Linked DNA regions of Homo sapiens: region 2 is reported to be linked to region 1. Evidence: microRNA targets listed by miRTarBase, many of them from high-throughput screens and not tested one by one. Region 1 holds a microRNA gene; the other region holds the end of a gene's coding sequence.
Evidence for each region. The annotated mature microRNA hsa-miR-4533 reads UGGAAGGAGGUUGCCGGACGCU and lies in region 1 at 1,569-1,590, shown strand. An mRNA with a match to its seed (bases 2 to 7 or 8) in the 3' UTR can be bound and repressed. Matches are read on the target gene's strand: a 7mer-m8 pairs with bases 2 to 8, a 7mer-A1 pairs with bases 2 to 7 and ends in A, and an 8mer does both.

Region 1 (4,148 bases):
CACTGGGCCTGTGAGAAACAGATTGAGCTTGCACCTTCAAGGCCGTTGTGATCAATGGGAGAGCAGACATGCAAACAATGGAAGGTAAGGGGGCTGGTGTCACCTGAGGATGAGGAGAAGGCTAAGCAGAGGCAGGAGAGAGCCTCTCTGATTAGAGAGGCAGAGATGGAATCCGAGAGTCTGGCATCAAGGGGAGCCTAGAGCATGAACATGATGCTGTTCAGCTGTGTCTGTGTTCACAGAGGCACTGAGACGGGTACCAGGGTGTAGATGCCAAGGACGGAGAACATTTGAAGAAGGCATGGACAGTTGGCAGAGGCAACTGAGGTGCTAAGTGGGAGCAGATGGGAGGGGCACTGGGGATGGAGGAGCACCTTGGGGCTCTGAGAGACTGGCTTTGAGGGCACTAGCCCTGAAGCCTGTTCTGTGGGTTATAATCCAAGCCAAGTGGTATCTCCTTTAAAAAAGGTGGCCAGATTTCTGATGGCATCTCTTCAAGGTATACATCCATGGCAGGGATGAGTCAGCACCCAGCCTTGCTGGACATGGAATCAGGCCACAGAGCCTGGTCACGTAGTGCCATGTAAGTTTCAGTGGGAAGCCTCTCTTACAGTATACCTGGGCATTTCCTGTGTCTCCTCCCTGAAATGTTTTCTGAACAACTTCTGAAATGTCAGTGTTTCTCTAAAAGAAAGTGAGGAACCTCTGTAAAACACCTTCTTTTTCTTTTGAAATGGGATCTCACTCTGTCTCCCAGGCTAGAGAGCAGTGACTCCATAACAGCTCACTATAGATAGCCTCAACCTCCAGGGCTCAAGCAATCCTCCCACCTCACCCTCTGGACTAGCTGGGACTACAGGCATGTGCTACCAGGCCTGGCTAAATTTTTTTCTTTTTTTTATAGAGACAGGGGTCTCCCTATGTTGCCCAGGCTGGCCTTCAACTCCTGAGCTCAAGCAATCCTCCCACCTTGGCCTCCCAAACTACTGGGCTTACAGGCATAAGCCACTGTGATTCTTAAACCCTGCCCATCTCTGCCTACTCCTCTCCCCAGACCACAGCTCTCTAGGACTAACTCCTATTTAGGAAGCATAGAGAAAAGTCTGACAATTAAAAGTGTTTTGTTTGTTGGGTGATGAATTTCCAGGGCCTCCATCTACTGTGTAGCACTTAATCGTTACTTTTCGTAATATTGTGACTAACCTTCCTGGCCATGAGAACCAGGCTGTCTCTCTTTGATGTACGGTGAGGATGCTGGAGTTGTTTTGCTAGGGCTGAAAATCCTGTGTGCCTCTAGATGTTAGATTTCCCTTGGAAAAAGGCTGTATGGGGCCAGTACAAAGAGAATTGTTTATGCTTCTGTGAGGAGATGCCAAAAAATATATAAGAACAACAACAACAAAAAATCCGCCATCAAATTTACTCCTTAAGTTTACTGACAGCCTGTCACAATGAAATAAAACATTTATATTCACTTTATGGACTTAATTTAAAATGACTTAGTTGAAGAAAGCAGCCCCTTGCTTTGAACTACCTGCAATCCGAACACGAAACTCGTCATGAGAATGTGGAAGGAGGTTGCCGGACGCTGCTGGCTGCCTTCCAGCGTCCACTTCCCTTTCTCTCTCTCCTGACACAGCTCCGTCGTGTGTTTGGTCCCCAGGCCTGAGGTCTCTGTGCTGCCGGGGAAGCTGACCATGCTAGTTCCAATGGTGGCCTTGGTTTAGAAAATGCAAAAAAGATCTCTGCAGGTCAAACAGCGATAAGGAAAGGTTAGCAGTGAGAATTCATCAGACAAGAAGGTGCCTGAGTTTTGGCACAAGGTCACGTTCACTCTCTGCTTTTGACTGTGCTGCTTGTTTAGGCACAGAGATGCTGTGGCTGAGTGTCTTGCTGGTGGAGGCTGCACATGCAGCCCTGTGGGAGGTGGAGCCGGTACGGGCAGATGATGTCAGATGTGAAGCGTGCCCACCTGCTGGACTTCCAGGAGGACTAGGCAGATAACTGCCCTGGTGTTTCAGGCACTTTGAGCTGGGGGTTCCGTTGTTTGTCGATGAGAGAGTCCCTGGATGCCAAGAGCTTTAGAGCATCTTATCACTCACGTTGGAGTTGGGACCAAAGCGATTCAAAGGAGGCCACAGTCAGCTGTTCTCAGCATCTGAAGCCCATGACTTGCATCTTTTCCAGAGGCAGCATCCCAGGCTGTGACGGCCAGCCAGGCATCCCCGGCATTCTCCCCGTCCTGCCCAGGAGAAAGGGCCCTGTGACTGCATGACACTCCCTCTTCCATCATCCATGTTGCAGCCCCTCCAAGCTGGTTAATGGAGAAAAGGAATTTCAGAGGCTTAGGGGCTTGCTGCTTTGCCAGCATTTCTGAAAGGCTTCAGAGCAACTTTAAGGATTTTTACAACAATGGCAGTGCTTATTTGAATGATCTTGTACTTTTACCAACACAGTGCAAAGCCCTCCACATGCATCCCAGCACCCTAGTTAAGACAGCCCTGTGATGTGGGCCCCTGAGCTCTCCCTGCTGCACGAATGAGGAAACGTGCCCGAGAGGGTCCTGGCCTAAGGGGCAGCCTCTGGACTCGCACCCAGGTACTCCTCCTGTGCTCCTCAGGTGCTGTCATGGCAGCTGCTCTGAGGTCTCAGCACTGCCTGCCCCAGCATGGCCGAGTTGGGCAGAAGTGCTGGAGCGGAGGTTTGCCTTCTGTATGGCTGCCTCAGCCAGACCCACGCATGACTCTGGAAGATTGTGTGGCGCTCCTGTGCTGTGCACCGTGGTGTCTTCAATGTCACCAGCAATCTGAAATGATATTCATATTTTCTAAGGTCAGCAGGGCACAGCACACCCAGGAAGCATCTGATACTTTGGAAGAAATCTGGTTTGATGATTATTAGAATTGCAAGAGTAGCTGTCTTTTAGTAAGTTTCCCCCTACTCCCATCAGCAAAGTGATAAGCACTTTCCTTCATCATCTTACTTCTTCCTCTCATCAATGCTATACAGCAGGAATCAGTGTCTCCATATCCCAGGGGAAAAAACGAAAGGTCAGAGAGGTTATGTTCAAGATTACACAACTTGAATATTGTAAGCTCAAGATTCAAACCCAGATCTCTCTGAACGTCAGAAAAGCCTGGACTCTTTACCATTACTGTATTTATTTAGACAAATACAGTTGTATGTATTGATAGTGGACAAAGTATTTCCATCTATGCATAACATTGTGGGATGAGCAAACCAAGGTGATTGACATGGGCATTACTTTACATATATATCTTTGTGTGTGGGTGTCTAGTGAGAACACTTACCTACTCTCTTAGCAATTTTCAAGTATCCAATACATTGTTATTCACCATAATGACTATGTTGTGGGATAACTCCCTGAGCTTCTCTGCGCCCACCCCCCTATCTAAATGACATTTTGGGTCCTTTCAAATCACCCTTATTTCTCTCCCCCAGCTCTAGACCTACAATCTGCTCACATTGGTGAAGTGAAAGCACCTGCAGGATTGAATTTACCCAGTAGGTTAGGACCCTGCATGCTCACGGAACCGCCCTACCCATCCTGCCTCCCCACCTGGCTCTGCCTCCTAAATGGATAGATACATGCTGTTCTAAAGTTGGCCAAGCTCTATAGTCTCCTTGGGAAAATAACAACCTTAGAACATGGGACAGCCCTGTACTCACAAATTGATGTCATAGCCTAAGACAACCAAGGCAACAGAGGATTCTCAAGAAGGTAGTGGAGGGGACAAATAACTTCTACCTCAGGAGATCAAAACGTGAAGCCACTGGTCACTATTCTGCTGGCTTACACTGATGTTTACTCACCATGACATATTAATGAAAGGCTTTTAATGTCAGTCATTTCAATCACAAATCCTTACAAAATAAGCAAAGTGTTACTCTTGCTCCATGAACAGGATACAGAGATTCCTGCTAAAATCACCCCAAGCTCAACCCTGACCTCACCTGCTTTAATTATGCGTGAAGTAAGTCAAATTCCTTTGCAACAAGCAGGCATTCATTATCTATAATTCCTATTTTATAACTTTTTTGTTTGATCTATCCCAGAATTCATTCTGAAGAAATTCAACAGAATAAATGATCATTTTCCCTGACCACTTGACTGCTGCTTTGAATAT
Region 2 (4,000 bases), not on the chromosome of region 1:
GGTTCAAGCGATTCTCCTGCCTCAGCCTCCTGCGTAGCTGGGACTATAGGCACGTACCACCATGCCCAGCTGATTTTTGTATTTTTTAGTAGAGACAGGGTTTTACCATGTTGGCCAGGATGGTCTCTATCTCTTGACCTTAGGATCTGCCCGCCTAGGCCTCCCAAAGTGATGGGATTACAGGTGTGAGCCACAGCACCTGGCCAGTACATGTTTTTTATGAGTGCCGGTTCTTACGGTATGTTCACGTAGAGACTGAAGGCTATAAAAACTTTCCTTACCACTAGAACATGTAATTGGTAGCCTTTCAGAGATTTATCCGTATTACGGTTCTTGATTTGTAGACGTATATATAACATTCACCTAATGTTTTGTGTTCTTTTTTCCCTGCAGATGCTGTACCCCTCAAGGATTTAAACTAACGAAAAATCAATAAATAAATGTGGATTTGTGCTCTTGTATTTTTAAGTGGATTAAAAAACTTACTACCTTAAATTGATTTGCTACATGCTTAAAATGATAGAGGTTGCTCAGCATTTTTGGAGTACAAGGGGGTCAGAGAGACATGTGATGAAAATTACAGGGCGAGTACAGAGATTTAGAAGGGAACGGGTTTTAATGCGAGTATCTTTGACAGAGTCTTGCTCTGTTGCCCATGCTGGAGTGTAGTGGTGCTCGCTGCAGCCTCACATTCAAAGGCTCAAGCAATCCTCCCTTGGCCTTTGAAGTAGCTGGGACCACAGGCTCATGCCACCATCCCTGGGTCATTTTTAAATTTTTTGTAGAGAGGGTCTGACTCTTGCCTATGCTGGCTTCAAACTCCTGGGCTCAAGCAATCCTCCTTCCTTGGCCTCTCCTGAAGTGCTGGGATACAGTTATGAGCCACCACACCTGCCAAGTGCTTTGTGATACTATGCATTTGTTCAATGCAGATTGGGAAACTTAAAATTTGAATGGAGATTATGTTGATGGGCTTTGGCAGTTCATTTGGATAGACTGGGATGAGAAGCTCTTGGGACTTGTGACTGGACAAAGCATTCCAGTATATTAAAATAAAATTAAGCCATATTACTCCACTCATAAAAAGCAATCCTATGGTAGGTACATGGAGGTTGGGAATAGTGCACGGAAAGGTGGCAGCTTTCTTTGGCTTCATGTTTTAATCTGGTAAAGTTCAAGATTGCACTTTAAGCAGGCCTCCTAAATATTTTAGATTTCTTGGGGATATGCTAAAATAAAACAACTAAGGCATCAGTTTTGCTGTATGGTTTTTTTTTTTTTTTTGAAGACAAGGTCTTGTTTTGTTGCTTGGGCTGGAGTGCAGTGGCGTGATTACAGCTTACTGCAACCTCAACCTCAACCTCCTCGGCTCAGGCAAACCTCCTGCCTCAGCCTCCTAAATAGCTGGGGCCACAGGCATGTGCAGCCACAACCAGTTAACTTTTTAGTTATTTGTGGAGATGGGCCTCACTATGTTGCCCAGGTAGTACTACATTTCTAACTGATGCAGTAACAGTCTTTTTGTCTGCCCCCTGAGGGTTACTGATCTCTACAGCACAGGTAGTTTTTTAAATTAACATCTTTAAATTGCACTGAAAATGTCAACAAGAAACTGGGAGTTTGCCACCTAAGCCCTTTTGCAGTTTTGCAGCGTGTATGGGTTCTCTTGTCTATGCTGCAAAAGAATTAACATGCTGGAAATGTATTAGGATAAGAGGGTGAAAGAAAGGATTGGGTAGGAAAAGCACACTGGCTGTTGTGTTATTTGGTCTTCCATCTCCTGGAGACAGGACTGAGAAGGAAAGTTTTTGTAGTAAGGGAAAAGAGTGGGAATACTGTCCAGCTTTCCCACTTCCCCTTCCTCCAGTAACATCCTGTTACAAATCTGCTAACCTACAAAGAGGGTAGTGAGATATACTGACCCAAGAGAAAGCAAGACGCCCTCCCCCAGAGGTCCCTCTGTCACACTGGCAGTTCTAAGAAAGGTTTGGTCAGTCCAATGGTGGTATGCAAGCCAAAGCTGCCATTGTTGGAGTCCCGTGCTTCGTGGACATGGGCTTGTGTTAGTACTCTGCCAGGCTCATTTATTAGGATTGTGGTGGTTTTTTTTTTTTTTTTTTTGAGACAGTCTTGCTCTGTCGTCTAGGCTGGAGTGCAGTGGCGCAATCTTGGCTCACTGCACGCTCCGCCTCCCGGGTTCACGCCATTCTGTCTCAGCCTCCCAGGATTGTGGTTTTAAGGCAAACAAAGTGCACTGATGCTGTATTCACCAGAAGTGAGCAGTACTTCAAGGCCGGAAGTTGGAAGTTGTATATTAGAATGCTAATGAAATTGAACTTGGGAATTACGCAGTCAGCGCGAGGAAGTGCTGATCTTGGACACCCACTCCAAAAGGCCAACATAAGCTAAAAGTACCTACTGTGTTCATTGTGCCAGTTAAGTAGATGTGATCAGTAGTACTCGGGGTATTCAGGGATAGAGGCATGTAGGTATACTGGCTGCGTAACATAAAACCGTAAAGTGTAGAGGAAGAAATAGGGCGGCATCTCAAAGAGGAAATGGCAGGAAGATTTTAGGAACACAAGTGGCTGACTGGAAAGTCCAGAAAACTAAAATGCCACATGAGAGGTCTCCTGTACTGAACTGAGGATCTTAGGCTTAAGATTGTTCTTGAGTGTAATACAACGTCACTGAAGAACTTGATTCACAGGAAATTTTAAAATTTACTCATTTGAGACAGGGTTTCTGTTGCCCAGCCTGTAGTGCAGTGGTGTGATCATAGCTCACTGCACCTTTGAACTTCTAGGCTCAGACAATCCCCTGCCCACAACCTCCAGAGAATCTGGTGCATGCCAGGCACGTCCAGCCAATTAAAATGTTTTTTCGGGGTCCCAGGCTGGTCTCGATTCCTGGCCTCAAGTGATCCCCCTGCCTTGTTCTCCTAAAGTACTGGGATTACAGATATGAGCCACCAGCTCAGATTATTTCAAATCCCAATGGCATCCCAGCATAAACAAGGGAAAATTAGGTGGGCTTTTCAGTCTCAAATGGAGAATTCTAACATGTTTCTGGCTTTGGGGGCTGGATGGATAATGGTGCATTTACAAAGTTGGGGAATCAGGAGATGGTTTTGTGGGAGGAGCTAAAGTTGAATTTGAGGAAGCTGTAAGATGTTAACCTGTGGACATATCCATGAAGACAGATGGGTATTTCAGGTCTGGGTTAGGCATATGGAGAAGTGGATGGTATTCTGAGTGGAACAGACACACGGTAAGTGGTAGGCATCTGAGCAAAGCGGGGGAAAACAAACGGTTGAGACTTTAACTCGAGTAACTTACATGTGCAATGGCAAATGAGACTCAAAAGCAAATACATGCTCTTCCTTACTGAGATGATGCAGCATTTGTAAATAATAAATGTATGTTTTTATGTTTTTCTCCTCCCATATGGAAATTAAGTCAAAAGTACTCAAGTCACCGTTGCCAAAGGAGGAGTCCTGTGGTTTACAGGAAAGGGCTTGCGTGGCTGGTAACTTGTCCACTACACCATTGAAACAGCTTTGCCTCCTGGCTGGGCGCGGTGGCTCACGCCTGTAATCCCAACACTTTGGGAGGCGGAGGCGGGCGGATCACCTGAGGTCATGAGGTTGAGACCAGCCTGGCCAACGTGGTGAAACTACGTCTCTACTAAAAACATAAAAATTGGCCGGGCGTGGTGGCGGGTGCCTGTAATCCCGGCTACTCGGGAGGCTGAGGCAGGGGAATAGCTTGATCCCGGGAGGCAGAGGTTGCATTGAGCCGAGATTGTGTCACTGCACTCCAGCCTGGGCGACGAGTGAAACTCCGTCTCAAAAAAAAAAGAAACAGCCTTTCCTCAGCATAACACTATTGTTACAGCCAGGAGCTTAGGATGACTGGTTCCATTCTTTATTCACAATAGCAATTTATTTGTGGTATTGTAGTGGAAAGGGCACGTTTCCTAAGTTACAAATGTGGTTTGG

Region 2: the mRNA of RPL35A is a reported target of hsa-miR-4533. Seed matches in the 3' UTR shown: 7mer-m8 at 840-846.

The regions. Positions count from the first base shown.
Region 1 is chr20:60,476,551-60,480,698 of GRCh38, forward strand. MIR4533 (microRNA 4533) reads left to right here and starts at 1,561; the gene lies at 1,561-1,631. LOC124904944 (a long non-coding RNA gene) reads left to right here. Exons shown (of 2, transcript XR_007067683.1): 2 at 1-4,148.
Region 2 is chr3:197,955,357-197,959,356 of GRCh38, forward strand. RPL35A (ribosomal protein L35a) reads left to right here. Exons shown (of 5, transcript NM_000996.4): 5 at 394-1,254. The coding sequence ends at 417. The region is part of intron 2 of DRC9 (dynein regulatory complex subunit 9); the gene reads right to left. Among named protein-coding and RNA genes, the nearest start is that of DRC9, 2.6 kb to the right of the region's middle. RefSeq lists an enhancer at 3,638-4,000.